Homo sapiens: one gene and its partners. The main gene of each other region encodes a partner of the protein of the gene in region 4 in a complex. Each region holds a gene or a part of one and is shown on either strand. Other genes may lie near its edges. The genes, in order: LSM6, SART1, PRPF6 and LSM8.

What was found.
Region 1: LSM8 (region 4) and LSM6 share a complex: the UniProt entries of both Homo sapiens proteins name them as parts of the precatalytic spliceosome.
Region 2: LSM8 (region 4) and SART1 share a complex: the UniProt entries of both Homo sapiens proteins name them as parts of the U4/U6-U5 tri-snRNP complex.
Region 3: LSM8 (region 4) and PRPF6 share a complex: the UniProt entries of both Homo sapiens proteins name them as parts of the U4/U6-U5 tri-snRNP complex.

The regions. Positions count from the first base shown.
Region 1 is NC_000004.12:146,178,179-146,186,746, reverse strand, and holds part of LSM6 (U6 snRNA-associated Sm-like protein LSm6), read right to left. Parts: intron 3,842-8,568; exon of another isoform or gene 3,836-3,841; 5' UTR 3,826-3,835; coding exon 3,732-3,825; intron 1-3,731. UniProt on the Homo sapiens protein: Plays a role in pre-mRNA splicing as component of the U4/U6-U5 tri-snRNP complex that is involved in spliceosome assembly, and as component of the precatalytic spliceosome (spliceosome B complex).
Region 2 is NC_000011.10:65,956,739-65,965,462, forward strand, and holds the start of SART1 (U4/U6.U5 tri-snRNP-associated protein 1), read left to right. Parts: upstream 1-4,995; 5' UTR 4,996-5,042; coding exon 5,043-5,355; intron 5,356-7,335; coding exon 7,336-7,393; intron 7,394-7,776; coding exon 7,777-7,832; intron 7,833-8,353; coding exon 8,354-8,480; intron 8,481-8,603; coding exon 8,604-8,709; intron 8,710-8,724. Other genes in the region: TSGA10IP (testis-specific protein 10-interacting protein), read left to right, coding at 2,145-2,244, 2,413-2,576, 3,079-3,202. UniProt on the Homo sapiens protein: Plays a role in mRNA splicing as a component of the U4/U6-U5 tri-snRNP, one of the building blocks of the spliceosome. May also bind to DNA.
Region 3 is NC_000020.11:64,025,084-64,033,651, reverse strand, and holds the end of PRPF6 (pre-mRNA-processing factor 6), read right to left. Parts: intron 7,714-8,568; coding exon 7,594-7,713; intron 6,671-7,593; coding exon 6,494-6,670; intron 6,050-6,493; coding exon 5,916-6,049; intron 5,175-5,915; coding exon 5,083-5,174; intron 4,276-5,082; coding exon 4,161-4,275; exon of another isoform or gene 3,967-4,160; intron 3,861-3,966; exon of another isoform or gene 2,844-3,860; intron 1,735-2,843; coding exon 1,608-1,734; intron 812-1,607; coding exon 659-811; 3' UTR 552-658; downstream 1-551. UniProt on the Homo sapiens protein: Involved in pre-mRNA splicing as component of the U4/U6-U5 tri-snRNP complex, one of the building blocks of the spliceosome.
Region 4 is NC_000007.14:118,200,371-118,205,310, reverse strand, and holds the end of LSM8 (LSM8 homolog, U6 small nuclear RNA associated), read right to left. Parts: 3' UTR 1,276-4,940; downstream 1-1,275. UniProt on the Homo sapiens protein: Plays a role in pre-mRNA splicing as component of the U4/U6-U5 tri-snRNP complex that is involved in spliceosome assembly, and as component of the precatalytic spliceosome (spliceosome B complex).

The DNA of each region.
Region 1 (8,568 bases), on a different chromosome or scaffold from region 4:
CAGCAGGTGCTCCCGAAAGAACATCTTAAAGCTGTGACTCACAGTGAAGAGCAGCTTGAGAATATAGGGCAACATATTGCATTATAACACATCTTGTTCTGTTTTGTTACAGCTATAATATTTTCCAATCAAAACTAATAGAGAAAATGGCCAAAAACATTCGAGGGAGCTTTCAAGGAAACAGTTTGAGTCAATCTTTAATTGTGTTAAGATGGTATAAATTTTGTAAAATTTGACCTGATGATCTTTTTCAAAAGATGAAAATCTGTAAGCCTCTAATTCTGTCTCTAATTTAAAGTGGTATTTCCTAGAAAAAAAAATTTAAGTAAAAACAAATACTAGATTCAATTCAGTCGAGTCTATAGTTTCTCATTTGATGTCTTAACTTCATTAATATGCTCCTCACTCTCTGCCTCTGCCCCCATTATCCTCTAAACAAAAAAGTTTCCTTTCAAAATTGTGTAATGACAGCAAAAGACATTAATCTACCAGAATTCTGCTAAAAGCGGTAAACTCTCAAAGAACGAGAATGGACTGTGAATAATAAAATTATTTCCTAGCAAAAGAAAGCTTAAGCTACAACTTTAGCTCGTTTCCTGCTGTACTATTTTACATACAAACTGCAATTATAAATGAGCAAGAAAAATCTGAGGCACAATATGCAAACCTGTTTGAAAACCAATGAAAAGAATTTCAAAATGAAATGTCCAGGCTGGGCAAAGTGGCTCATGCCTGTAATCCCAGTACTTTGGGAGGTAGAAGCTGGCAGATCACTTGAGGTCAGGAGTTCAAGATCAGCCTGGCTAACATGGCGAAACCCCGTCTCTACTAAAAATACAAAAATTAGCCAGGCATGGTGGCAGGTGCCTGTAATCCCAGCTACTTGGGAGGCTGAGGCAGGAGAATCGTCTGAACTTGGGAGGCGGAGGTTGCAGTGAGCCAAGACTGAGCCACTGCACTCCAGCCTGGGCGAAAGAGTGAGACTCGGTCTCAAAAAAGAAAAAAGAAAAAAAAAAAAGAGTTCACTTCTAATTAAAATATCTATTCTCACAGCAAAGGCAAAAACAAACAAACAAACAAACAAGCAACAACAACAACAAAAAAACTGCCCAGGGGGTTAGAAATACAACCCTTTCCTTCCATGAGATAAACTACTATACAAAACCAAAAACAAGACATTTTCTCAAAGAGAAACTGCTACAGAGAGTTGCTGGAGTTTTTCTTTTTTTTTTTTTTTTGGTATGTTGTTGTTTTGCTTTGGGGTTTTTTGGGGTTTTGTAAACCACAAAATAAGCACGTTCCTTTAGTAAGGCTATCTAATAGTATAAAACATTTTGCTTTAATAGTATAAAGGCCATTCATAAGAGGAAAAAAAATTATGGTTACTATCCATGTGAAAGACTCCTGAATCTCACTAGTAAACAAAGAAAATATATGTAGAATGAGATATTACTTGTTGCCAATTAGATTGGAAAAGATGAAAAAAAGCTAATACAAGAGTTGGTGAGAACATGAAGGATAAACCCAAGTTCCCTGATGCAGGGCCATGGAATACTCTCTGACTTGTAAATCCTAGCCCAGGGAATTGATTCTAAAGAGATGTTTGGTCAACTTCACAATATATGTCAAAGTAGAAGAGTTGTTTATAGTGGCAAAAAACTGGTCAACACCTAAATGTCCATTAATAGGAAATTGGTTAACAGTAAAAGCAAAACCATGGTACAGCCACACAAGAGATTCCTATGCAGCCATTAAACCCTCTATATTATTACAAAACTAAATGTACTGTTTCAACGTTTAAAAAAAAAATCAGGTTGCATGTAGTTGACTCCATTTATGTCAAATTATGCTAATATAGAGGTCAAAATTGGTAAACTGTCTCTGGATAGTAGCATTGGGGATCCTTGGCTTTCTTCTATATACTTTTCTGTATTATTTCCTTTTACATTTCTAAAATTAAAACAAAACTAAAACATGTATTGCCTTTATAAATAGAAAAATTTTCCCTAAAGAGTACAGAGAAAAAAGGTCAGGCTGGTTCATCTCTTCAATAAAGTGGGTACTGAGAAGACATTGAACACAATGTCCTCACTTTAATCAACTGTCAAACAGATTAAAACCCCTAGAAGTCTATTACTTCCTATGGGCCCATCATCAAAAGTTCGCAGGTGAGAGGCAGTACACGGAGACATTATACTACCTCAGTATTCCGTATGAATCCATTAATTTTACTATAAAAATAAAATTAAACTGGAGATACGTTATTAATGTCAAGAAGCTAAAGGAGTACATAATCACCAGAGTGGTTTCTTAACAAGGCTTATGAGCCGAGCCTGAACTTGAGTCCTAGCTCCTCCTCTACTAGGTGGGGATAATCAATAGAGATTTCAAAGGAAAAAGCTCAAGAGATTACTATGACTATTAATTATTCAGAAAAGAGACCAAAAAAAGGCCACAAAAACCTGTGCTATGGTTTGAATGTGTCCCCTCCAAAATTCAGGTGTTTGGCAATAGGAGAGTATTAAGAGGTGGGGGCCTTTAAGAAGCAAGCAGACCATGGGGACTTGCCCATTAATGGGATGAAGGCCTGCATTAAAAAAAAGTCTTCACGCAGTGTGCTGGTTTGCCCTCTGCCTTCTGCCACGTGAGGACTCAGCATTCCTCCTCTCTGGAGGACGTAGCCCTCACCAGACAACTGAACCTGCTGGCACCTTGATCTTGGATTTCCTAGCCACCAGAACTGTGAGAAAATAAACTTCTGTTTTTGAAAATTACCCAGTCTAGAGGCGGAGCTTGCAGTGAGCCGAGATCGCGCCGCTGCACTCCAGCCTGGGTGACAGAGCGAGACTCCGTCTCAAAAAAAAAAAAAAAAAAAAGAAAATTACCCAGTACAGTGCTCAGGTGACGGGTGCACCAAAATCTCAGAAACCACCACTAAAGAACGTATCTATGTAACCAAAAAAACCACCTGTACCCCCAAAAACTACTGAAATAAATAATAAAAAAAATACAAAAAATGAAAATAAAAATGACCCAGTCTGTGGTATTCTGTTATAGCAACCCAAGAGACCACGTCCCTCTGCTAATGAATCAGTTATAGTTACACCTGCCAAATATTTCAGGTAACTTAACATACCTTAGCTTGGAAGATAAGAAATTCAGTAACTTTAAAAAACGGAATTTAAAACCATTCTTCCTATAAAGTTAATTTCAAAAGCACTGCAGCCTCTTAAAAATAATATTCTCTCCAAGAACAGAAAGGCATTTTTTTTTTTGAGACAGAGTCTCACCCTGTTGCCACACACATTATACGTTATATGAGTGGGACATTCAGGTTGTAAAATGATACTCAACAGCTGCTTGCCAATCTTGAATACTCCTGCAAAAACAAATGCTGCTGCACCAAGATGTTCTTCAGTTGTGTTGTTCATACCTGAGTTCACTAGGAATACCTAGCTATTACCAGGGAATTTAGGCACATATGATCTCAAAGCAGAGACAGGAGACAGAAGTCACACAAATCACACTGAAAGGCAGAAGCACATGCTATACTGTCAGAGTTGTCCTTCTAAAAGGAATGATCTCAGAGATAGAAAAAGATATATGCATAAAAACTACTGATGACCAGTACTTTTTTGGCCTATTGGGTATACTTAAGAGGTTAATAAATATCAGTAAGTCACATTTACTTATTCAGTTATACCAGTGAGGTTGAAACATGAAAATATTACCTCGATAATCCACTCCAGAATTTAATTTTACCACAACTGGTCGTCCGATGATTTGCTTTAAGAAGTCACTAGGGGTTTGCTTCCGAAGACTCATTTTAACAATCCTAAATCAAAATATGAAAAGGAACAATAAAAGGTAAAGACCAAAGTTGATTATTCAACAAAACCCTTAAAGCCCTTAACATACTTACAGAAAATGAAGTATCAAAGGACCATGCGAGAAGACGCGTATTACTCCACTGCTACTACATGACAGCTAACATGTTTTCAGTACTTACTATGAGCCAGATACTAAGCTAAACATTCTACATGCATTATCTTATCAGTACCCACAACACCATGGCACAGTCTCATTAGGGAAAGTCCTGTGTTTACAAAAGCACCTGCTCTTAATCACTTATCATTACTGCCTGACACATAGTCAGTATACCCATTACAACCATTACCACTTCCATTCAGTGAGTGGTTGGTTATTTTATGCAAAGCATTCTGCTAAGGTCTTTATAAACACTATCACATTTCATCTTTACAAGAACCATGGGAAGAAGGTCTTAATACCCTCATTTTGCTGATGAAAAGTAAAGGCACAGAAAGATTAAATAATTTGTTCCCAAATGTGATGGAACATTCAAGTTCAAATCAGCCCTATTTTAAAGTCCGTATTATATAGAACAGACATATTTATGAACAACTGATGCCTAAATGGTATCTCTGAAAAGAATTATAATCTAAAGGTAATTTTGAGTGTACTATATGCCAGCACTTTTCCAAGAACTTTATATATATTAATCAATTTAAATTGCTCTACCCTAAAAGGGAGGTATTGTTTTTATCCTCATTTTACACATGAAGAAGAAGACACAGAAAGATTAAACACTCTGCTCAAGGTCACACAGCTAGAAAGTGGATAGCCAGCCCATACTCTTAATCACAACCTTAAACAGCTTTCTGAAAGTCAATAACACAGTCAAAGATTTTTAATTACTCTATTAGGACTATAGCAGATATGTGCTCTAAATAATGAAGAAAAAAGTCTTAAAACTCAAGTATAACAGGAGTCTAACACAGAAAAAGAGATAGCATTACACACCCAAATCAACAGCATCAGACATGCAAAGCTGCACATCACTCCTTTCAAAACGCATCTTTTCTTATAAAATAGCTCTCTTTCAAAATATGTTGGTAAGTTAATAAAACTGTAGTTAAGCAAAAACTGAGTAAAAATATTTCAGAAATTAATTTTTCTGTTTCAGTCAAATTCAGCATCACTATTATTCAGCAGCTATATAGCACTGAGACTTAAAAGTTAGTATGGATACAATATTTTAAGGATTCCCTTCAAGAACTCAAGCTGTTCTTTTGTTTTCAATGAAATTTTTTCATTAAATATTCTTCCATTATTTTTTCATTAAACATTCTTCCACTATGCTTATTTCATTCTAAGTCCATCCACTCAATAATCTGAGTTTGTGTGGAGAAGGATTATTTGGAGACGTTCTCATAGTGAATTCACACGGGATCAGCAGTTGTAGTAAGCTGGAACTCTAGGTTACTGGGCTCAACAAATTACATGTACATGTACACACTGAGCAAGGAAATTCAAAAACATGTCATACACAAAGGCTCTGCCTTAAAGAACTTAAAATCTAGAAGAATTTAAACTCATTTAAAGAGTGTGAGTAAACAAACGCAATCATAATTTAAGTAAAATAATTTTATTTAGCCAAGAAAAGTCAACATCCTAAGTCAAATAAAAGAAAATACAAATTTCAGAAATTATCTTTGAATTTTGGGCTATCATTTGGACAATCTACACTGCCCCCAAGGTTTGAAAGATGTTTTTAAAATGCAATAAATTATTTTGCTCAACAAATGTTAACTTAACTTTTCCACTGAATTTCTAGCTTATTTTATTAGCTCCACAATCTCAACAGATAACTACAATTACAACTACTATTACAACTACTATTCAGGACAACCACTTTTCATTCAGGACTCAGATCACACAGTAATTTTATTTACACTGTTCTGAGTACAAAGTGAAAAAATACAAAATAAATACTGTAACAGATTCAGTACCTTTAATGAGTTTAGTGAAAATACACAAATCTTCCCATTCATCTATAAACCGCCTTATTTACATTTTGAATACATGCTGTTTTGAGGCTGAACACATCTAGAGAGAATATTAACTCTGAAGGCCTGATACTCAACTGATGAGTCAGGTGCATTTCCTATCACAGATGCTAAATCCCATTATGCCACAGTTTCATTATGTATAAAACTGAGATAAAAGTAGCTATTTTGTGTTAAAAATCACTAAAATGCTTTGTAATGTGATTCTAGTTCATGGAGATATTAACTACTTTAATTATTACTAATTTCATCTGCTCATAGAGTATTTACAGTTTCAGATTAAAAACATTTGAAAAGCAAAAGCTGGAAAGAGTTAATAACTGTCAGAAAAAAGAATGCAAATCTTGACTATCAGTTGCTTGACAGTATAGGTTATTTTAAAAGTATTATTAATATTAACTTTCCACACCTTTTTATAAACACAGATATGTTCTTCTAAGCTCACCAAAGATAACGCCTTGTCCATTATGCTTTATCTGTATTCCAATTAACATCAATCTCTTCCTGAAGGCAATCAACACTTCCAACTTTCACGGAGCACCTGTCAAGTTCAGGCGCACAGGGTTGGGGAATGTAACACAAAGACAAGGCCTTAAGCCCTCAGAGTTTACATTCCAGAGAGGGCAAGAAACATGTAAATGCAGAATTTTACAAAGGTGATGTGTATTCTGATAGAATTATGCACAAAAGGGCAGAGAACACTCTCTTACCCCAGGCTTGGCAGATCAAAGAATTTCTGGAAGTTAACACCTGAGCTGAATTTGAAGGAAAAGGCGTCACCCCCTAGCTGAAAGAAGAGAAGTCAGAAAAGGCACGGAACAAGTGTCTGGGTAGAACGTAAAATCTACATAGGCAAGGAGGAGACGCCTCTGCGGCAGGGAGCTGTGCCACATTCACAGGGAGCACAGAGTTGAGGCTCTGGGTCAGTTTCCCAAACTTGAATCATTAGGATCAGCTGGAGATTCTACTCAGTAGTTCTGGGGTAGGAGCCAGCAATCTATTTGAACAAGCCTAGGAAATAACTGGCAAGGGGAAATACTGTTGTCAATGATAGGAAACAGGGGTTTTAAGCAGGAACTTGCTTGGGTTCCACTCTCTACTTTCCATAGCAGAGTGCAGATGCCCATCTCACCTACTTTTGGCATCACATAGTTTGGCATTTGATTTTATTTGCTATAACCTGTCACTATGCCCTCTTTTGTATTCTTTATGTGGGTCTTTTCTCCCTCAAAATACTGTAAGCCACATGACAAGAGGGGCTCACAAGCTTCTCATCTGTTCTCTAGAATATCTACATTCTACTAAACCTCTTGGAAAAAAAATACTTCTAAGGTTATTTGGAAAAGAGTATATGGGTTGCCTCAAACACATTTTATCCATCACTTTAGGAAAGCCGTATCTTTTACATTAGTCTTCATTAGGCTTCCTTGCTACTCCCTGTTACTTAATGACTTGCCCATAAATCCATTTTGTATGAGTAAATTGGTCTTGACACCACAATTTTTCCCATCACTTGGCTCAAGTAATTTTAAGTTTTCATCTTTTAAATTGGATAAAGCAGAAGAAACAGTTCTGACAATTTCTGAAGCAAGAGATGAGTCTCTTGAACCATAAACACATAAGAGGAAAAAGACCTTTCTTCAGGGTCACCCTGGTAAAACTTCTCCTTTCAAAATTAAAGTCATAATCACTCTCTATACCTCCTCTCCCTCCCCTGACTCCTACTCAGGCTTGTTTTAAATGACCTATTTTCATAAATGACTATTAAGTCAAAGGCAGTATATTTTCTGTCAGAAGCTACTGAGAGGTCTAGTATGAAAACATCTGCAAAGTGCCCTGCAGGGAATTTTTTTCTTTTTGGTAAAAGAATGAAGAAAAAAAAGAACTTTTATTAACCCAACTATGTGCTACCAGAGTTAGATTCATAAGCAATTTACAGAGAAACCCTGTGAGGTGGAAAGCAAAGCCAAGGCTGACCCCAAAGCCCAAGCCCTTTCACAGGTACAGCTGCCCTTCTGAATATGTTAAGATTCTCTGGTTAAATCTTGGGGAATCGCAATAGAGGCGGTGAGAAATCCAGTTGGAGAGTAGCAGCACTGGGGAAAAAAAATACCTAACGTGACAAAGTGCTGTAAATTAGCCTCAGAGAAATACAATGGACAGATGCAAAGAAATCTATCTCATGTGATTTGAGTTATGCCACTGAGCAGAAGACATGAAAATCCTTATTTCTTGGCAATGTTTACCTGTAAGTTTTTACCTACTCCTGGCGTATTTACAGTTTAGGGTGAAAAGAATTTGAAAAGCAAAAATTGCAAGGAAACATTACAATCCAAGTAATTGCAGCACTAGACTAATAGATCAGTGTCTGAGGAGGCGATCAGATAGGCAGAAGAACAGCTCTCTAAATCCTCCCTTCGGACACAGTGGAGTTCCTCGCTGTCTTTTGAAGGCTTCATACCAATCCCTCCTTCCTCGGCAGCAGGGGCTACTTCTCTCCCTCTCTCCCAAAGGCGAAGTGAGTCCACTCAGAGCACCTCTTTCCACTCTCAGTCATGGCCCTTATCAGGCTGTTTCGTAATTTTTCCATTTGCTGACTGGTCTCCCGTGCGAATTTAAAGCTTCTTGGGGACAGGGAAAATATCTTACTCACTTGGTGTCCCTGGTACCTAAGCACACTACCCAAGTCTGTGGAAGAGAC
Region 2 (8,724 bases), on a different chromosome or scaffold from region 4:
CAGCTGTCTCAGACTCCTGACCTCAAGTGATCTGGCTGCCTCGGCCTCCCAGAGTTTTGGGATTACAGGCGTGAGCCACCGCGCCCAGCCAAGTGTTTTGTTTTCACAGTGAGGCAGGAAGTGTAAGGTTCAGAACTCCAAGTGGCAGGTGCAGCAAAAAGAGTGATTCAACCTCACTCCTTTTACTTTCTATTTGAGAGGGCTAAGGCATAAGTAGGTATCTCCCATGCAGTCTCTCAGCCATTACAGCCTATGAACTTCGCTGTCTGAGCGGAACAGGAGACTCTGTCCTGCCTAGGAAGGGCAGGCACAAAAGAGGTTGTCCTGTGGGAGGGAGGGATGTGTCTCCTTCCATTCTGAGATGATGGACGGGGCTGACACCCATAGGCACCACTTCCCTTTCTGCTCAGGGCTCCTGTCATTGTTTTTTTGAGACAAAGTCTCGCTCTGTCGCCAGGCTGGAGTACAGTGGTGCAATCTCGCCTCACCATAACCTCCAACTCCCCAGTTCAGACGATTCTCCTGCCTCAGCCTCCCAAGTAGCTGGGATTACAGGCGCACGCCACCACTCCCAGCTAACTTTTGTATTTTTAGTAGAGACAGGGTTTCACCATGTTGGCCAGGATGGTCTCGATCTCCTGACCTCGAGATCTGCCCGCCTCGGCCAGCTCCTGTCACTTCTAACAGAAATAGCATAAAGTATCCAGCAGGAAAAGTGCACACAATATCACAGAAAAGATAGGGACTGCCAGCTCATTTCCCACCTCCCCTTGTAACTGCCATAAATTCCTTCCTAAATGGTGAAAGCCGTTTTTGCAGTAACTTGTGTTCCGGGCCATGGGTTTTCAAGTCCATGTCTTTTTCTCAATGAAGGATGGTTCCTTCCCTGGCACAGGGCCACAGCAAGGGTGGCATGGCCCAGCAAGGCTGAGTTTTTCCACCGGGCCCAGCACAATCGCTGAGGTCCCAGTACAGGTCTTGGGGTCTTGTCTGTGTCTCCCCTCCCCTCCTGTCCTCTTGTCTGCGTCTTCCCTCCCCTCCTGTCCATGGGTGCTGCCTCCACACCTCAAGGCCTCTCTTACATGCTTCACAGATGGATGCCTGGTCCCATGTGGGTGTGGCTCGAAGGTCCCTCTTGCTGCTAGAGTGCTCTCTTCATGAGTGGCAGTGATACTCAAGTTTGTCAAACAGACACATTTCTGACAAGTGCACAAACTGGGTTTTGGGTTTTTTGAGACAGGGTCTTGCTCTGTTGCCCAGGCTGGAGTGCAGTGGCACAATCTCAGCTCACTGTAGCCTAGACCTCCGAGGCTCAAGCGATCCTCCCACCTTGGCCTCCCAACTACCCAGGACTACAGGTGCATACCACCATGTCTGGCTAATTTTTGTAGAGACAGGATTTCACCATGTTGCCCAGTCTGGTCTCAAACTCTTGGGCTCAAGTGATCCACCCTCCTTGGCCTTCCAAAGTGCTGGGATTACAGGTGCGAGCCACCACGCCTGGCCAAATTGGGTTTTTATAAATGAAAATTGTGCTTCCCCAGTGGAACCCTGATCTCTCAGGGGTGTGTTTTTTAAATTTGAAACATATTTTTTTTTAGTTTCTCTGTCCCATTTTCCAAGCTGTCTGCTTACAAGAACCACAGAGAATGCTGGCAAGCTTGTCCGATCCCTACTATAGCACAGTGAAATAAACTGAGCCCAGAGCCAAGAGCCCAGAGAGAGGCCTCACCCAAAGTCACACAACCAACAACCACAGCTCCCCCTCAAGGGAAAGAGGATGGGGAGGGGAAGCTATGTAAGCACGTGTCTGGAAGCTCAGAAGCCAGCACTGGCCCCTTTCCCATGGGGCTGGCACAGGAGGATGGGCAAGCCCCAGCTGCACAGGGCTCGGCCCCTCACTTCCCAGCTGCACAACTTTGAACAAGTCCCTCAACCCTCCCGATCCATCCGTAAATTGGGTGAATAATTTCCACCTTGGCTGACTTCACAAGGAATCCAGGCAAGAATGGGAATGAAATAGCTTTGTAAAGGTGAGGGTGAGGACATGAATATCAAGTCCTTAGTGAAGATAAGCGGGCTCAGGAATGGAGATCAACAGTTGTGTCCATGGTTAGCTGCACAAAGGCCTGTCTCCCCTGCAGGCGCCAGGAGCGACAGCGCTTTGCTGAGTACCAGGCGGAGCTGCAAGGCATCCAGCACAGGGTGCAGGCCCGGCCCTTCCTGTTCCAGCAGGCTATGCAGGTGAGGCTGGCACCTGGGCAAGCACATAGCTGCCCCCTGTGAAGAGCTGGCTGAGTGGGTAGGGAAGCAGGATGCGAGTAGGTCCCTGCAGATAGGATCCCAGGGCTGCTGCCCTCTGGAATCCCTGGGACCCCCTCAGTAACCCGATCCCCACCTTGCCCTCGGCAGCCCTGGTGCAGAGCAGGAAGCCGTCTTCTCTCTCCTCAGGCCAATGCCCGGCTCACCGTCACTCGGCGCTTCTCCCAGGTGCTGTCAGCACTGGGGCTGGATGAGGAGCAGCTGCTGTCTGAGGCAGGAAAGGTGGACAGAGAGGGCACCCCCAGGAAACCCAGGTGAGTCTCCCCGTCAGGTCAAGAACTGACTCTGCCATGCTGCTGCGGGAAGGGGCGCCCACACCAGCACTCTGGGCTCTGGAGGGCCTCCCCCAGGACAGGCAGAGAGCCCAGAGGAAGGCAAGGCCAGGGTTGTCATTCCTACTTCTCAATGAGGAAACTAAGGACCTGAGGGGAAGGGCCTTCTTTAAGGACGCAGGAGCGAACAAGCAGCAGAACCAGTCTGGGACTCTGCAACCATCTGAGCGGCCACACACCAAGTCCCTCATTAGGGGCTGGCACCACCACGCTGGTCACCCCATGCCTTAGAATAACCTGGTACAGAGCAGCGATTATGAAGCCCACTTGACAATAAGGAAAGTGAGACTCGAGAAGAGTCACTTTGCCCAGGATCACACAGCAAGCCGGCACTGAAGCAGGGTTTGAAGCCACATTGTCAGTGGTTTCCTTGGGCATGGGGGTGGGAGCTGCAGAGTCAGGGGCCTCTATCTGTGTCTTGAAGGAGCCACAGGTCAATGGGGGTGAGAATGGAGCACTCTCCTCAGAGGCCCCCAAGGACAGAACCCACCGGCAGCCAGCCTGACAGGCACTACAACCCCAGCCTGGACCCGGAGTGCAGTCCCTGAGATAAAATTAAAGGCTTTATGGCAAACACAGTATGAGATTTCTGGTGGTGGGGGTGGTGGAAGCTACGGGTTGGAAGTTGGAGGTGGCAGGTGGGTGGGCAGCAGGCTTAGCTCTGTCCCCGCACCCCCTCCCCACCAGGAGCTTTGGCTCTTTTGGTTCCCCCCACCCAGTACACACAGCCCCTTCTCTGCTCCTGAGGAGTGGGGACATCTCAAAGAGCAAGAGCTGTGACTTCTCCACCCCATCTCCAATGTATATGTTGGGTCCTATAAATTCAAGCATGAATAAGATGAAATGACTCCTGCCTCTGAGGACGCCCAGTGAGTGGGAGAGGGGGTGGATCCTTAAAGGGGCGCATACAACATAGCCTAACACATGCTGAGTTGTGCCACACAGGGAGCCACAGACTGAGCAACCACTGGGTGAGGGGAGGGGTTTCAGGAGAGATTGGGATTGTGTGCACTGCGCTTTTTTTTTTTTTTTTTAAGACAGAGTCTCGCTCTGTCACCAGGCCGGAGTGCAATGGTGTGATCTCAACTCACTGCAACCTCTGCCTCCCAGGTTCAAGCGATTCTCCTGCCTCAGCCTCCTGAGTAGCTGGGACTACAGGTGTGCGCCACCACACCCAGCTAATTTTTGTATTTTTAGTAGAGACGGGGTTTTACCATGTAGGCCAGGATGGTCTCGATCTCTTGACCTCGTGATTCGCCTGCCTTGGCCTCCCAAAGTGCTGGGATTACAGGCGTGAGCCACCGCGCCCGGCCTGCACTGGGGTTTTAAGTCCCAATAGTTTTAAGTTAGGGCTGGTCTCCTCAAGAAAAAAACTCATACACACAGATGTGCCACATTTTGCATTCAATTTCAGGGGTTCCAGGGATACACTGACGCCCATGTGGAGCTCCTAAACAATCTTAACAGTTCACGGGGCCAGGTTTTAAAAATCCAATCCAGGGCCAGGCGCAGTGGCGCATGCCTGTAATCTCAGCACTTTGGGAGGCCAAGGCGGGTGTATAGCCTGAGCTCAGGAGTTCGAGACCAGCCTGGCCAACATAGTGACCCCACCCCCTACCCCCGCTCCCCACCAACCATCTACAAAAAAATACAAAAATTAAAGGGGCGTGGTAGCGTACTCTCGTAGTCCCAGCTACTGGGAAGGCTGAGGTGGGAGGATCACTTGAGCCCAGGAGGTCGAGGCTGCAGTGCGCTGTGATCACGCCACTGCACTCCAGCCTGAGCAACAGAGTGAGATCCTATCTCAAGGGAAAAAACAAAACAAAACAAAACAGGGAACGTGGGAAGGAAGCGTTCCCTGACGATACTGGTTATAGCGGGTCTGAAGCTGGGCTGTGGAATTGGAGATCTCGGGAAAACAACACCCGTTGGAGCCACGACCCTAGGAGTCCACTAAGCGAGCGCCCATTGTAGGAGGGAGGTGTCTACGGAAAGACCGTGAGGTAGTGAACACCCCGTTGCCGGTGAAGTGCAAGCGCAGGGAGGCCGGGGAGGAACTTAAAGCCACGAAGACACTGACTTAATGGGCTCTAAGTCCTTCCAGTTCTGGGATCCCACCTCCGGGTTAATTCCGCTTCCCTTGAGGAGCGCATGCGCAATGGGACCACTCGCTCAAAGAACCCACCCGACCCGAGACGGCGCGAATGTGCAGTCGAGCGCTGATCCCGGCCTTCCCATGAGCCTCTGGGGCAGGCTCCAAGGCGAGCGACGGAAGCAGCCGCTCTTAGTTTCCGGCAACACGACAGCGGCTGCCGAGCGACCCGGAAGTATTCCCATTTTGCGTTGTCTGGGCTCGGCGGCAGCCGGGCTCGGAGTGGACGTGCCACTATGGGGTCGTCCAAGAAGCATCGCGGAGAGAAGGAGGCGGCCGGGACGACGGCGGCGGCCGGCACCGGGGGTGCCACCGAGCAGCCGCCGCGGCACCGGGAACACAAAAAACACAAGCACCGGAGTGGCGGCAGTGGCGGTAGCGGTGGCGAACGACGGAAGCGGAGCCGGGAACGTGGGGGCGAGCGCGGGAGCGGGCGGCGCGGGGCCGAAGCTGAGGCCCGGAGCAGCACGCACGGGCGGGAGCGCAGCCAGGCAGAGCCCTCCGAGCGGCGCGTGAAGCGGGAGAAGCGCGATGACGGCTACGAGGCCGGTGAGGAGGCGGGGCCTGCGCAGGGGGCGGGTCGGGCGGGGGTCCCGGAACGCGTGGGTCTGGGTGTGCGCGCAGTGTCAGCGAAGCTCTTCAGGCCAGGAAACCCCCAAGCTGTTTACCAGCTCTATTAAATAGTCTTTCTACGGGATCCCTTGAGCCCAGGAGTTAGAGGCTGCAGTGAGCTGCGGTCCCGCCAGTGTACTCCAGCCTGGGCAACAAAGCGAGACTCTGTCTCAAAAAGAAAAAAGTCTTTCTACGGTTGTTTAGGATTAGAGGTTGACTTTCTCCACTCAGCTGCTTGAGGACAGAGGGCTTCTGTTTTCCTCAGTTGTCTGGTACAATCAGATTCTCAATAAATATGTTGAATGAGTGAATGAAGTAGTGTCAGCATATACAGAGGCAAGAAAAACCTGGTATTGGACGAATCGTGTAGGGCGCATGGTAGAGAAATGAGGGAGTAAGATAGACAGGGATGTGAACACAAAGGACCCTGTACTGTAGTCTCTGTTAAGAACTGTAGATTGTCTTGAGGATAGTAGGGAGCCATGGATGTGAGTTGAGGAGTGAGTTGCTCAGATCCGTATTTTGTAAACATCACTGGATTGAGAATTTAGTCAAAGGTAGTCAGGACTGGAGACCAGGAAACCAGGAGGGCTATAGGCCAGGGGAGGGCTGATGGTGGCCTGCACCAAGGCAGCAGCAGTGGGATTGAGAGAAGTGGACAGGTTGGAGAGGTGTTTTGGAGGAGGAATGAACAGAACTCAGCACTTGTATGAGGGTGGGAAGAAGGAATGGAGGATGACTCCTTGAATTTTGGCTTGAGCAGCCAGATAGGTAGTGGGTGTCATTTCTACTGAAATTGAGGAGTAGGGAAGAGAAGCAGATTTGGAGCGGGGGTGGGGGGAGATAGTTCACTTTTGGGGTTGTCAAGGTTGATGGTAATGGGGAAATCCAGAGTTTGGACTGGATAAAGCCATTGGGAGTCAGTATCTGGGTGGCCAGTGAAGCCCCTGAAAGACTGTGACATGAGAAGAGGGGGTCAGGACTAGAACCTGAGAAATGCCCTTATGTTAGTAGTAGGCAGAGAAAGATGTTACCAAAAAAAGGAGACAGAGTAACCAAAAAGGCAGGAAAACCTTTGTGTCATGGGAACTTTGGGAAGAGAGTATTGTTAGAAGGAGGGAGCGATCAGCAGTCCCACATACCACAGGAGATCAAGCAAAACCAGAACCGAAAAGAACCCACTAGATTTAGAAACGAGGAGGCTGGTGACCTTGGGGAGCCTGGAGAGGTTGGGATCCATGGCCCAGGTGGAGAGAGAAGCCTTTAAGATAAAGGAGAAGGTAGGATGCAGGATGGGAATGCAGGAAAGGAAGAGTTTTTTTTTTGTTTTGTTTTGTTTTTTTGAGACAAAGTCTTGCTCCATTGCCCAGGCTAGAGTGCAGTGGCACGATCTCAGCTCACTGCAAGCTCTGCCTCCTGGGTTCAAGCAATTCTCCTACCTCAGCCTCCCGAGTATCTGGGATTACAGGTGCGCACCACCGTGCCTGGCTAATTTTTATATTTTTAGTAGAGACGGGGTTTCACCATCTTGGCCAGGCTGGTCTTGAACTTCTGACCTCGTGATCCATCTGCCTCGGCCTCCCAAAGTGCTGGGATTACAGGCATGACCCACCATACCCGGCCCAGACCTTGTCTGTTAAAAATGAAAGAAAAAAGTAGAGGGCAGAGTGGTGACTACAGCAGTTTGGATGTCTTGGGTCAGGAAAGGAAGGTGCACAGAAGAGGCAGGGCTCTGAGACTGGACTCGGGCAGAGGAGCTGCTGGGGAGCTTGGGTGGAAGAAGCTGCTGTTTTCTGGTGTTTCAGCAGGCCCAGGTGCTGGTGAGGGGCCCTCATTTTTGTTCCTGCAGCTGGAGCCAACGATGCTGGCTTCTTGGCCCTGTGTTCAGCTCCTGAGCCATGCTTCTTCTTGTTCCAGCTGCCAGCTCCAAAACTAGCTCAGGCGATGCCTCCTCACTCAGCATCGAGGAGACTAAGTGAGTACTGTCTCCCTTGTTTCTACTTTGTTTTTCTAAGAGAGGTGGCTCTGGGGCCAGCACGGGGGAGGCTTTCTCACATGAAAGTGTGCTAATCAGAGTTGGAAAGATTGTTTAAATCATCTTAGCCAACAGTTGACTTATAGAAGAGAAAACTAAAACCTAAGAGTAAAGTGGCATTCACTGGTTAGACGCAGACCAGGCTGGTGCCCATGTTTCCTGCTTTGGAGGCCAGGGCCCTTCCCAGTGTCCTAGGCTGCCTGGGGCAGACTTTGTGTTTGGGACCACTCACTCCCACCCTGTTTCTCCTCTTGTCTGTCTGGAAATGCACATGGCACCCTGTGTCTTTAATAGCCCCTAACACTTGTATCTCTTGTTGTCAGCAAACTCCGGGCAAAGTTGGGGCTGAAACCCTTGGAGGTTAATGCCATCAAGAAGGGTGAGTATGGGGCTGAGGATAGGGTTTGGGGGAAAGAGGCCATCTGAAGGGGTCTTTGAAGAAGGTGGGGTTAGAGGGCAGGTTCAGCACTGTTTAGTGGTCTTACACATGCATATTTGCCGGAAGGCATGAGGTCCCTCCTTGCTGGTATAATGGGGATCTGGGGCTCCGCCTGCTCTCTGAGTTGGAGCTGTGGCCGTCGCATACTCACTCTGGCTGTGAGTTGTTAGATGGACTGGAAGATGTGCACACTTGCTGCAGACTGCGCTGTGCGGGGGTGGGTTTCTTGTTTTTCTTTAAAGCACGATTTGAGGGGCTTTGGAAGCCACAGAGGGTCCTGTTGTGCTGCATGGGTTGGCCAGGAGTGTGGGGACGAAGTGGGAGCAGGGAGGTGAAGGATTGTTCCTTCCTGTCCTGACCCCTTCTGGCCCCCTGAGCTGGAAGGGGGCAGGGTGAGTGGCTCCCTCCTCTCCCCACCAGCCATGGGCGGGCATAGCCTCACGTCTGGGCCCCCCTTCCAGAGGCGGGCACCAAGGAGGAGCCCGTGACAGCTGATGTCATCAACCCTATGGCCTTGCGACAGCGAGAGGAGCTGCGGGAGAAGCTGGCGGCTGCCAAGGAGAAGCGCCTGCTGAACCAAAAGCTGGGGTGAGGGGTCCTGGCCAGGGCAGGCAAGGGAAGGGCTGGGGAGGCCACCATCCTTGGCTGCCTCTTGAGTGGGGTGGGGAGCAGGAGCTGGGCTCCTTGAGCATCACTTTTTCCCCTCTTCAGGAAGATAAAGACCCTAGGAGAGGATGACCCCTGGCTGGACGACACTGCAGCCTGGATCGAGAGGAGCCGGCAGCTGCAGAAGGAGAAGGACCTGGCAGAGAAGAGGGTGAGCACCTGGGCA
Region 3 (8,568 bases), on a different chromosome or scaffold from region 4:
TGCAGTGAGCCGAGATCGTGCCACTGCACTCCAGCCTGGGCGACAGAGCGAGACTGTCTCAAAAATAAAAAAATGAACTCACCTCCAAAAGAAAGAACGCCTCTTACTGGTGACACTGTCACTCAGCACATGCCTGAGGGGCCCGGGAGGCTGTGTGGAGAGGCCCTGCGCAGAGCTGGGTTCTCCTGTTTGCACTCAGACCCCAGGGAGGCCCCAGCTGTCCCCTGACCAAGACCCTTGCAGGCGGCTGCCAGGCTCCTGCGAGCACCTGCGTCCTGCATGCAGCTTGGTCCCCACTGTCTCCAGCTGTCCTCACAGGGCTTTTGGCCAGAACATCTGCACCCCTACCACCTTCTCCACAGTCTTGGGGAACCCGGGCACCTCCACAGTGCCTCCTCTGTGAGACACCGGCTGTCTGCAAGAGGCTTCTGTCCAAGCAAGGGCGATCACAGCCACCCCAGGACGGCATGGGACAGGCCAGGACAGGCCAGACTGGGGCAGCAGAAGCAGGAGCCAGAGAAGGGCCCCAGAGAAAACCAGCAGGCTGCCTGTTCTGACACGAGACATAAAAACTTTTAATGAAGGAGGACACAGCTCAGAGCCCTTCCACATGCGGCCCAACCCTGCCCCACGGAGACCGGCCATGGCAACCGCTCAATCAGAAGGTGTTCTTGATGCGGCCGGCCACCAGCCTAAGGATGTCCCCGATCTTCTTCTGCCAGTTGGCGATGTCCTTGGACACGGCGCACCACAGCTCCCCATGCCGAGGCTCTGCACTCTCACAGCGCTTCCTCACCTCCTCCTGCTGCTCCTGGGGGGACCACAGGGCACGTCAGGCAGGGGTCCTCCCACGCTACTCCCCGGACCTCGCCTGCTTCTCGCCTGGCCCCTGCAGACCTGGCCCTGGCAGCACCAACCCCAACTGGCGGGCCAGAGGGCACAGGCCCTGCACCGGAAGGCAAGGCTCTTTCAGGTGTGTTCCTCAAAGGAGCCCCACCTCCTGAGGAGCATGGACCCCACCAGCCTCAGCCCACAGATGAGGAACTGAGCCAGGCTCCCCATGTCTGTGCCTCACACAAGTGCTCACGTCTGCCTTCTCCAAACAAGGAGTTAGGGTTCACGTGGGCTGGCAACACTTTCCAGGGAGGACCAGGACAGCCTGACTGCCTCCAGCACAGCTCAGACAACGCTTGGCTCTAGCGGGGCGGGTGGGAGCAGAGGGGCTGCTGCCCAGGCTGTCCTAGAAAGCCACACTCAGGCTCAGGCCCAAGAAAAAGGCCAACTCCATTCCCATTCCTAAAGTGAGCCCAGGCTCCAGCCAGCAAATAACTCGTTAAAATACTCCAGCAGACAGGCCACCCTAACGGACAGGGTGCCTCAATTCCAGGGTGTGGAGCTGTGAGGCTATAACCAGAAAACGGATGTGGAGGCAGAGACTGCCTTGTGGGGAGGTGTCGAGGATTCTGTGCCCCACACACCCGGTCCATCCTCCCGACCCCGGGCAGAGTCACGCTGGCCGTGGCCACCTCCTAGAGCCCCCAGGGCTGGCGGAACTCCCCGCCACAGTCCCAGAAGGCACTGAGCGGCGGTCTGTCGAGGGGCCTCACCTCAGTGCCATGCTGCAGCTCAAACTTGTAGAAGAAGGCCCAGGCATCCCCCAGGTCCGAGTCAATCTTCACAGTGCGGTGGAACCACTCCCTGGCCTTGGTGATCTTCCGCTGACTCCAAAACAGCCTGTTCCAGCAGAAGGACGTGAACCCAGAGTGAGTGGCTGCAGGACGGTATTCTGGGGCAGGGGAACGGCTTCAGGGCCATCAGCTTCATCCCTGACCCGCAGCCCTGGTGCTCCCCTCAAGAAGGCCTGAGGATCAGGGCCTCGGCTGATCCAGAAATAATTACCCCAGATCATTAACTTGAAGCTGCCCTTCACGGGTCTAACCAAATTGGTTTTTTTTTGTTGTTTTTTTTTTTTTTTTTTTGAGAAGGAGTCTCGCTCTGTCGCCCAGGCTGGAGTGCAGTGGCGCGATCTCGACTCACTGCAAGCTCTGCCTCCCAGGTTCAAGCGATTCTCCTGCCTCAGCCTCCTGAGTAGCTGGGATTACAGGCATGCGCCACCACACCCGGCTAATTTTTGTATTTTTAGTAGAGATGGGGTTTCACTGTGTTGGTCAGGGTGGTCTCAAACTCCTGACCTCATGATCCACCTGCCTCAGCCTCCCAGTGCTGGGATTATAGGCATGAGCCACCGCACCTGTCCCAAACTGTTTCTTAAAAAATTCACACGCAGGGAAAGATCTTCCAACTCCGTAAAATTAGGGTCAGATACAAGGAGATGAAACTAAACCTGACACAAAATTAAACTGCAACTTTGATGAGGGAAAGTTATACAGTTTCAGCTCCTCACTGAGACACCTGCTGGATCATCCTGCCCCACCCGGCCTCCAGCAGCAACCCCAGTGAACACTGAGAAGATGGGCTCCAGGCAGCACAAGGGCCTGGGCCTGCAGCCCACAGCCCTCAGGCCACTGGATTCACACCGCCGTGCCTGCCAGACACATGCACACCTGAAAAACCGGGCCCGAAGAGGTCCATGCTATGAGAGGCCAGGTAAGGGTGTGCATGGCACCCCCACCCGCTGCTGGAGAAGGGATGGCGGGCGCTGGCTGCTGAGCATGCTGGCAGGCCCGGGACTCTGCGTTGCTGCCACCCTCTCCTCAGGGTCACCTCCCCCTGGAGCCAGAGGCACCGTAGTCAAGAGACAACACGAGGAGCCTCCACTCCGGGCAGCTGTTCGGGTTCGTCTCAGTTGCCAAACGGAATAATTTCACACTCTGATAACCTGATTGTTTTTTAAGCCTTGTGGTATTCTTAATTGCCCGGTGTTAGATAAACTGTGATTTAAAGAGCACAAACCCAGATAGCAGACACACAAAACACTGGCTTGGGAATAGCAAGGAGTGACTTATTTACTTTAGCAAAGCCTTTTATAAGGTTTTATGGCTGCACTATCAGAGTGTCACCCAGAAGTCACTCTGGGAGGTGAACGCACAGGGCAGGACCAAGGTAGCACCAGGCAGACACAAGCCTCCCTGTGGGGAGCCTCTCTCATCTGTCGGGGGCCTGCGGGCAGGGGAGAGGAGGTGCCCCTACAGGCAAGCCTGTGGGGGCGGCACCCAGACCTCTGGAGACCAAGCACCACTGCCACCCAGTGCTGGGGAGAAGGGATGGAGAGAATCAAAAGCCAGCACTAGGAAGGCTGTTGTCTCTGCATGACCCATGGCGGGGCAGGTGGAGGGGAAGCCGGACACAGGAGAGCTCCTGGGGCCAGACACGCCACCTCTGCCAGGTGAGCCCACGTCCTGAGCTGCAGCCTCAGGAACCCAGGGTTCTTCCAAGAACTCCCTTCACCCCACATGGTCACTTCCCAGCCTCCTGACCCACACTCAGGCCCAGCTCCTTCCCAGACTGTCATCCTCTTTCTAGAAGGAAACAGGGACCCTGGGGGTCGGGGATGGCCCTGAGCTCCCTGCTGTGCCCCACACCTGGCGGGTCTTTGCCCACATGTGCCTAGAGTCTGCATGCTCTGCCCCATGGCTACCCGCTGCTGCCTGCAAGGTTCCAGAGTCACGTCCCCAGTGAGTCTCTGACCCAGCGGCCAGCGCACCAGTGTGAATCACACGCGTCCCCAGTGAGTCTCTGACCCGGCGGCCAGCACACCAGTGTGAATCACATGTGTCCCCAGTGAGTCTCTGACCCGGCGGCCAGCGCACCAGTGTGAATCACATGCGTCCCCAGTGAGTCTCTGACCCGGCGACCAGAGCACCAGTGTGAATCACATGCGTCCCCGGTGAGTCTCTGACCTGGCGGCCAGCGCACCAGTGTGAATCACACGCGTCCCCAGTGAGTCTGTGACCCGGCGGCCAGCGCACCAGTGTGAATCACATGCGTCCCCAGTGAGTCTCTGACCACGGCACCCTCAGGTGTGTCTGCCAGGAGAGGCGCCTGCCCCAGACCACAGCAGGAGCGACGGCAGCCGAGGATCGGGGAAGCCCACCCTGCTGCCGGGCATCTTTACAATGACCAGGAAGAGGCAGACAGACTCTGGAAAAAGAGCCCATTAGGACCCCGAGGTTCAGCAATCCTGTGGGGGCCCCACTCACTTGGCCACGGCCAGGAGCACATGGGGGTCATGCTCACACTTCTTCAGGGCATCCACGCTCTTGGTCCTCCTCTGGGGCCTTGCCTCGAGGAAGATGGCCTCAGACCACAGGATACCTATAATTCAGAAACAAAGAACAAAGATTTGCACTCCAGCCTCTGGTTCCGGAAAGGTGCCCAGCCTACAGATTCTAACCCGGGACGTCCTCAGACCACGACAGGGGCCTCCCACACACGGCTCGCAGAACTTGTGCAAGGAGAACCACAAAGGATGAGCACTCTGGCCCACCCAAAACCATGGCAGCCCTGAGGGCACAGACTGGACACCCTGCAGAGTCTCACTCTGTCATTCAGGGTGGAGTGCAATGGCGCAATCTCAGCTCACTGCAACCTCCCACTCCCGGGCTCAAGCAATTCTCCTGCCTCAGCCTCCCGAGTAGCTGGGATTACAGGCGCCCGCCACCATGCCCAGCTCATTTTTGTATTTTAGTAGAGACGGGGTTTCACCATGTTGGCCAGGCTGGTCTCAAGCAATGGACTCCTGGACTCAAGCAATCCTCCCGCCTCAGTCTCTCAAAGTGCTGAGATTACAGGCATGAGCCACCACACCTGGCCAATTTCTTTTAAATTTTAAAAGAAAAAGAAATGATAACACTTCAGAAATGAAATCAAATTCTCCCATTTTGAGGCCAAGAATTTCATTAAGTTGTCTTAACGGCCGAGTATAGCTGAAACTTTTGACTGAAATGATTCACACAAACTACACATTTTAATAAAGTCCGTCTGAAGCCTGAGCCCCCACTCCCTCAGGAAGTGCCAGCCCTGCGGAGTCTGGGAAGCCAGGAAGCACCCCCTTACCGGAGTCAAGGCACCCCCTTACCGGAGTCAGGGCACCCCCTTACCGGAGTCGGGGCACCCCCTTACCGGAGTTGGGGCACTCCTGCAGCGCCTTGGCCATGAGTGTATTTGCGATGTTCTTCAGCCCCGCACGGTACTCCAGCCGCACGGACTCCAACCTGAGGAGACAGGCCCCCGGAGGTCCCACAGCCGTCTACCAACAGCACATATTCTGGTAGCTTCTGGGAAGCCTTGTCTGAAAGGGCTCTCCACCCAGTCACAGCAGCAAAAACTCCATTCCCTCCACAGCAGAGCTCATCCACCACAGAAACAAGGCGCTGGGGCCCACATCCCTGCCAGCCCCACTGGCAACCGCCCCAAGGCAAGACCTCAGATCCTGACGCTGTCCAGATGCAGGTGAAGGCATCCAGAACAAACAAGACCAGACTGGGAGAGCCAGGGCCGCACAAGGCACCCAGAAGCTGCCTGTCTGCGGCAGTGCCTGCACAGTGCTCCAGCCCCGTCACCCTGAGCTGGACGCAGCACCTCCATGAACAGAGCCTGCACCTAGCAGGCTCCTGTCCACCTCCAGGGCTCTCCACGCCACCTCCTCTGTGGAGCTGGCTCTCCGGGGTCCATCCTTCCCTCGTCCCAGCCATCATTAACCCCTCCCTCTCCCAGGCGCCCTCCATCAGAACACAAATTAAACTGCATCAAACCATCTACAGGCCTGTCACAGTACCTAGGCCGAACTCTCCTAAGGCAGGGACCGTGATTTTTCATGGCCAGCACCTACCGCCCCCCAAGCCCCTGAGCCTGGAAGCACTGCACGAGTGACTCCACACAAGCAGCTGGGTGACGGCGGCCCACCTGATGGGGAAGCTGTGCCCAGAGGCCAGGCTGCCCCCTCCAGGACTCACCACAGCCCAGGGTTCTTTGGGTTCTTCAGACGAGACTTTTCCAAAATGGCCCGTGCTCGAGTAAGCTGCCCAATCTTCTCCTCCAGCCGAGAGAGCAAAAGCCACAGGGGTGTGGAGTGGGGACACTTCTTCAACTGCAACCAACAAGTAAGAGAGCAGCTCAGGTGGTGTCTATGAAGAACTGGGACACAGCCATGCCCAGCTTCTCATCTGCAGTGGGTGACCGAGTCCCTCAGGGCTGCCATGTCCATGGAAAAACACCCCTCACACTCTGCATTTGTGGGTGTACAGGTGTGCGGTGGTGCTGTGGACCTGTGCACACAGGTCTGTACGTACCAGCCTTTACTGCAGGTGTGCCACACTCTGCACTTCTGAGCAGTGTGTGCAGCTTCATATAAGGAAAAGCACAGAACTCAGCGAGGGGACCAGGGTTTGGGTCCTGAGTCTGCAGCTCCATCAGCTGTAACCCCCAGCCCTCCACATCTCCTCAGAGGCGAAGGGCAATGACCCTGCACCAGGGGGCTCAGTTTTGTGAATGCCGGGTCAGCTGCAGCCCCAGGGTGCAGGCAGAGACGTACCCCCTGGTTATAGGCTTCCCGCGCCTTCTCCATCATCTCCTTCTGCTCCTCGATCTGCCCCTTCATCATCCACAGCTTGGGGAAGTCCTCATAGTGCCGCAGGGCCTCCTCGCACAGATCTTGGGCTGCCCTGATGTTGTCTTGCACCCACTCCAGCTTCACAGACTTCATGAACACCTGTGGGGCAGACATGCACTGTCACGCAGGGCATCAGCTCCAGGGTACGTGCTTCATGGTACACTCATCCTCAACACTGTTACCTGCAGTACTGTGTGTACTTTTGTAAGCTTTTCATAGCCTGTTTGTGTACACAAAAGGTGGGGATAAATATATGTTTTTGTTTTGTTTTGTTTTTTTTTGAGATAGAGTCTCGCTCTGTCACCCAGGCTGGAGTGCAGTGGCACGATCTCGGCTCACTGCAAGCTCCACCTGCTGGGTTCACACCATTCTCCTGCCTCAGCCTCCCAAGTAGCTGGAACTACAGGTGCAAGCCACCACACCCAGCTAATTTTGTATTTTTAGCAGAGTTGGTCAGGCTGGTGTCGAACTCCTGATCTCACAATCTACCTGCCTTGGCCTCCCAAAGTGCTGGGATTACAGGCGTGAGCCACCACACCCGGCCGTATGAACATGTTTGTTGTTGTTGTTGTTGCTGAGACAGTTTCCCTCTTGCTGCCCAGGCTGGAGTGCAGTGGCGCGATCTCAGCTCACCGCAACCTCCACCCCCGGGGTTCAAGCGATTCTCCTGCCTCAGCCTCCCGAGCAGCTGGGATTACAGGCACGCACCACCACGCCCGGCTAATTTTGTATTTTTAGTAGAGACGGGGTTTCTCCATGTTGGTCAGGCTGGTCTCAAACTCCCACCCTCAGGTGATCTGTCCGCCTTGGCCTCCCAAAGTGCTGAGATTACAGGCGTGAGCCACCGCGCCCGGCCACCACGCCCGGCCACATGAATGTTTTAGTCACATCACAAAGATGAGTGTGCTGTGGTCTCGTTTGCCTGCCGTCATCTCACTCCCATCACCACCCAAGCCAGGCGTGGGGCCCGCATGTGCACACCATGCACCCCAGACGGCCCAGCCCTGCCTGCCACTGCGTACCCGGGCGGTGGGGGCACTGCTCCGCGCCTTGGCCAGCAGCCTCCGGGCCCGCTCGTACTCATCATTCTCGGACTCCAGCTTCACGGCTGCCAGCCAGATCTCCTCACTGTTGGGGTTGGCCTGAAGGGCAAGTACAGCAGCGTCAAGAGGGGTCAGAACACAGGGACCAGCGCCTGATCACACTTAATCAAAAGCAGGCAGGCAGGAACTGAGCCAGGCCTTGCTCTGCTACAGGATTAGTCTGGTCCAAGCCCTTCCCAGGGAGGAGATGACAGAGCCGACTCCAGTGCAAGAATCCAGACTCACCTGGAAACACACAGGCCCATGTTCACTCTGGTACAGTGAGGACAGTGAAGAGGCTGCTAAAGCACTCGAGCAATAACGGGGGCAGGTGCAGGGCCATCTTACCCAGGATCCACCCACGCCCTCTCAAAGCCCCTGAATGGGGCACTCGCATCCTATACTGGTAGACTCATCACACGCAACCTCGCTCTTTCCCCTGAGCTTGATGAAGGGAAGCCAGCTGTCCTGTCCTCATGAGCCCACATGGGCAGGAGAGAGGACTCCCAGGGTGCCACTGACATGTGGAGAAGGCGTCCACAAGCCACGGAAGCTCACACAGCCCAGAGCCCAGTGGACACGCAGGCTCTGCCCTCAAAGCCTCCCCAGCCCGGTGCCCAGGGCTGTCTGAATGCGTCCCAATCAGCACAGCCGCCCAAGAGAGCGGGTGGAAGGAAGCCACGTGACAGGCAGAGAGCGGGCAGGTGGAGGGGACGCTGCAGTTACTCACAGGAGTGATGCCATCTCAAACAGGCAGCTGAGAGCGAAAGGTTAAACCCAGGCCAGTCCCCTCTCATGGTATTTGCTCAAAGAAGGGCACACTCTATGATATTAGCCTGAGCTACAGTAACAGACTTTTATATAGCATTCTATAGCTTATTAAAAAGTATGTTATAAACTATTAGGATGTTATAT
Region 4 (4,940 bases):
AAATAGGGGGAAGGAATGTAATCTTTTGTAGATTATGTACATTTAATCTCATTTAATCCACACCCTAGCCTTATAAAAATGAGTTAGTAATATACAGAATGTGGAATTGATCTCAAATATGTCTGACCCCAAACCTGTACTCTTTGAATTAGATCACATAGCATAGATGAATATTATTGTTATTTGGCCCAATTTGATACTCATTATTCTTAATATTTTTCCAGAACATACCAAAACTAAGTTTAACAAATGAATAACTACTGTTCAGCTGTATAGGAAAATAAAGTATTTTAAATCTGTCAGTTGAGTTCTGTAATAATTTGAAATTTAAATTTTGTATCCTTTTTTTTAAATTTTAGATTCAGGGGATACATGTGCATGTTTATTACATGGGTATATTGTGTAAAGGTGGAGATGGGGTTTCTAGTGTACCCATCACTCATAGAGTGAACATTACCCAATAGGTAATTTTTCAACCCTGAGCCTCCTCTTATACTCCCCCCATTGTAGTCCCAGGTGTCTATTATTTCCATTTTTGTGTCCATGTGTACACATTGTTTAGCTCCCACTGATAAGTGAGAAAATGTGATAGTTGATTTTCTCTTTCCAAGTTAGTTCACTTAGGATAATGGGCTGTAGCTCCATCCATGTTGCTGCAAAGGACATGATTTAATTCTTTTTTATGGCTTCATAGTATTCCATTATATATATATATAATATTATATATTATATATATTTAAATATTTTATATATTATATATCATGGAATGTGTGTATATATATACACACACATTATATATACACTCTATATATACACTATATACAATGTGTAAACAGTAAATGTTATTGTGTATATATACAAAAATGTTACATATGTGTGTATGTGTGTGTATATGTATATGTATATATGAAATATTTCCTTTATCAAATCAACCACTCATGGACACTTAGGTTGGTTCTATGACTTTGCTACTGTGAATCGTGCAATGATAAGCATACACATGCAGGTGTCTTGTTTATAGTTTCATATGCTTTATTTTTTACTGTAGTAAATGAAAAATATAGCCCCATCAAACCAGAAAATTGAATCTTGCTTGAGGACAATAATTAAAATTCTTCTTAAATCATCAAAGTCCAGGGCTTCCTTCAAATGTAAACTTTTCTTTTTTAAAAAAGTGTGTCCTTGCTATTTTTACATACCATCCGTTATCCCCATAATTACATATCACCCTTAAAATATGGCAAGAATCTCAGAAAAAAACATGGACATTCTTAGTAGCCTCTGTAAAATAATTTATTTTTAGGTGTAATAATTAACAGCAATATATCTATAGTATTAAAATTTACAAATCATTGTTAGAACTGAGCAATTCATAGGTAACCAATAAGGGAGGAAAGGAATTAGAAAGCAACCAAGAAAAACAGCTGTAAGAATATGGAGATATTCTTCATATGCAATAAGGTGGCAAATTTATTCAAAAAAGCATGATAAATATAAAGGATGAGTATATTATAATATACATGTGCACATATTAAATGTTTGAAATCACAAATTATGATTTATTTTCTCAACTAAACTGTTACTATAGAATCATAAAAAGGAAGAGAATCTTGATGATTTTTCCATTAGAGTATACCATGTTAGATCTGGCAGATGACTTTTCACTTTTTATAGTGCTCCAAAAATTGGTACACTTCCCTTTGCCTTTTGGAGACATCACTGACTTTGATATTCAGAGTGGTAAAATCATGATATAAAAATTCTTGCCCATTGAAACTCAATTATCCTATTTACTTGATTTTTAGTCCCTTTCTTCATTTTCCTTATTTAGATATTAATCTCTACTAAACAACCATTACTCTATTTAAAAAATTTAAGTCTACAGCTTGAATAATCACAGCTCTATTAATATTGGATATTAGGACCTCCCCGCAATTTTTACTCCTATATGATATCAGAAATATTAGTATCTTCTTCAAGGGAAATGGGAAAATTATGTGAGTTTTAAAAGGGGTTTATATTTCTTTCTTAAATTAGTATTCAGAGTGCCCCATAATTCTGTTCTCATATAAGCATTTCTCCTGTACAATTTAAAATCTGTTTTTTGAGATTAATTTTTTAAATGAGTCTTCTTAGAACATCTTGCTTTGGAGTTTGGGAGTTAAATCCTTTCATTAAATGTTTAAAAAGAATATATATTCTGATGTCTTGGGATAGAACGTTCTATAAATGGCAGTTAGGTCAAGATGGATGAAAGTATTGTTCATGTCTTCTATATCCCTACTGATTTAAGGCTACAGTTTTTAAAGACTGATAGGGAGGGACTTGACGCCAGAATCCTGAAGGATAAAGTAAGGTAAAAAAGTGTGTAGAAAGACAGTATAGATCAGTGCTTCTCAAACTTTAATGTGCATATGACTCACCTGGGGAATTTATTAAAATTCATATTCTGCATTTTATATCAGAGATAAAAAAGAATTCTGTTTGGGCATAGAAGTTGTTTTCACCTGCCTCTGAGATACTTGCTTCTATACTAGCACAATGGCAGCATTGTTGGTTGTTCACCCCATCCCCATTCTTCTCTTTTTCCTAACAGCAACCCTTTTTTTATTTGGAGTGGCAAAATGTCACTATAAAAGGAAAAAAATCCCTCACCTTCCTAGCCTCCCTTGTAGTTAGGGTAACCATATGACAAAGATCTGGCCAATGGCATTCAAGCAGTATATTTTGCCAGTATAGTCTGCTGGTTATAGTTGGGAAAGCATTTATTTTTCCCATATGATAATCTCACTTTCCTATTTCATCTTTCTTTATTCTAATTAGATGGAAAATATGAGTCACGAGATGACAGGCAAATTATTAGAACAAAAGGATGGCAAAGAGAAAATAGTGGCCTGGGTACTGGGTCACTTCTTTGAGTAGGTGCCCCAGTCTGAACTGCCTTGCTTTTCACTTTTCTGTTCTTTTCTCTCGAGATAAATGAACTCCTCCTGCCTGTTAAAGCCACTGGCAGTCAGAGTTTCCAGTGCTTATAGCCAAATACCATTCTAACTGATGTACTCACCAATAATAATCGTAACTTCCTTTCATATGACACTTCATGGTTTCTTCATCAGCATTATGTGTGACACAAGCAAAAACAAAAACAAAAAAACTGCCAATGTATCTATTTCAAGACATCCCCAGAATTCTGTTATTAAATAGCATTGATGAGGCAGTCAGCCAGAATGTTTAAGCTGTCCTAAATTACTGCCTCCTCTGTGTTTAGGGAGTCTGCTCTTGGTCTTACAAGTCCAAAAGCAGAATATTACAAATTCACATAGAAGTGATCAGGATCTAGAGACTTGATTTATGCCATGCAGATTCACAGGGCATTTGTTTATAAAATTTGTGCTGGAAGATTACTTGTGAACTAGGGCCAAACCCTTAATTATGACTAGGGAAACCCAGAAGATAAAGTTGCATTAAAAGCCTGCTTGATGGAAACAGAAACATACAAAAGATGGCCTTACAGGGAAAAAGTTAAAGTGTTACCACAAATGTATACATGAAATGACCAATAATTTTATTTTATATTTCAAATAACTAGAATTGTACAGAGTTTAATTTTACAGCTTTAGGGCAAGGATAAACTCATTTTTATTTTTGCAGTAAAAGGTATAAATATTGAAAATTATGTAGGTTTAAAACTTTACTATGATATAGACACATTCTCAAATTAATGAATTTTACTGAGCTTTTTATATCAAACTTACTGATATTTAATGCAAAATAATAAATATTGAGATTCTTGGTTGTACATTATAAAATGCATCACAGAGCGATTTATTGATGCAAAGGAACCGTTTTGGCTCATGTAAGTGAAAAGTCTAGGAGTCACATCTTTAGGCATCGCTGGATCCAGGTGCTGAAATGATGTCATCAGGCCCAAAATGTCTCTTTATTGCTTGATTCTGCTTTCCTGAGTTGGTATCAACTAGGAGACTCTCTCTACATGCTCCATGGCAGCTCCAGGCTCACACATACTTAGTATTAAGATTTTCTCCTCTTCTTTAATATAAAGGAAATTCAGCTAGATGATCTTTAGTTCAAAATTCTGTGATATATAAATAACTCGAAATAACTGCTAACAGTTAATGAAACATCTGATTCAGTAAAGATAATGGTTATTTACAATTGAGTATTGCATATTAAAAAGTTCATTAAAGGTTTATTTTTATAGTTATTTCAAATTTGCCTTTTGCATTTTTAGTAACTATGAGTGATACAAGCAAAACTACAACCTAGCACAAGTTGAAGTATCACAAATTTCAAGTCAATTGCTACCAAATTAGATTTTAATATAATTTAGATACTAATATTAGTGTATATGTGAAAAGTGTTTGCTAATGGGAAATTTAGCCCATTAATTGTCAATCAACAGTCAAGATTTAGAAACCTCCTTTTTTACAAGAAACAAGTAGAAACTGGGATGGGAGAATAACATTAGCAATTGCAAACCTCAGTTCGTTCCATTAAAATGTTGATTGCCTTGGGAATAGATGCTGTCACAGGAGAAAAAAGTGTAAATTCAAACACTTAAGGAATAAACTCTTATAAAGTACAATGTGATTTATCAATTAATTAAATTTGAATTCCATGGAATGAAATATAAGTCAACAAGTATGACAGTTTGCTTGTTTATTATGGAAGAATCATTAATAATTTGATAATTAAATGGTCCTGAATGGTTAGCCATGTTCTCCGCATTTAAATAAATAGTATAAACATAAATGAAAATATTAAAGTAATTTCAACGTGATAGAGACCACTTATTTTTAGTTCAGGTAGAGTTCCAACCTAATGGTAATTAAGATTCCAGATCCGAAAGATGTCATGTGAATATTGCTCTGAAAAACCAAAATTAAAGCTTTCTTAAAGATGCTGTGTAGGGCTGAGAG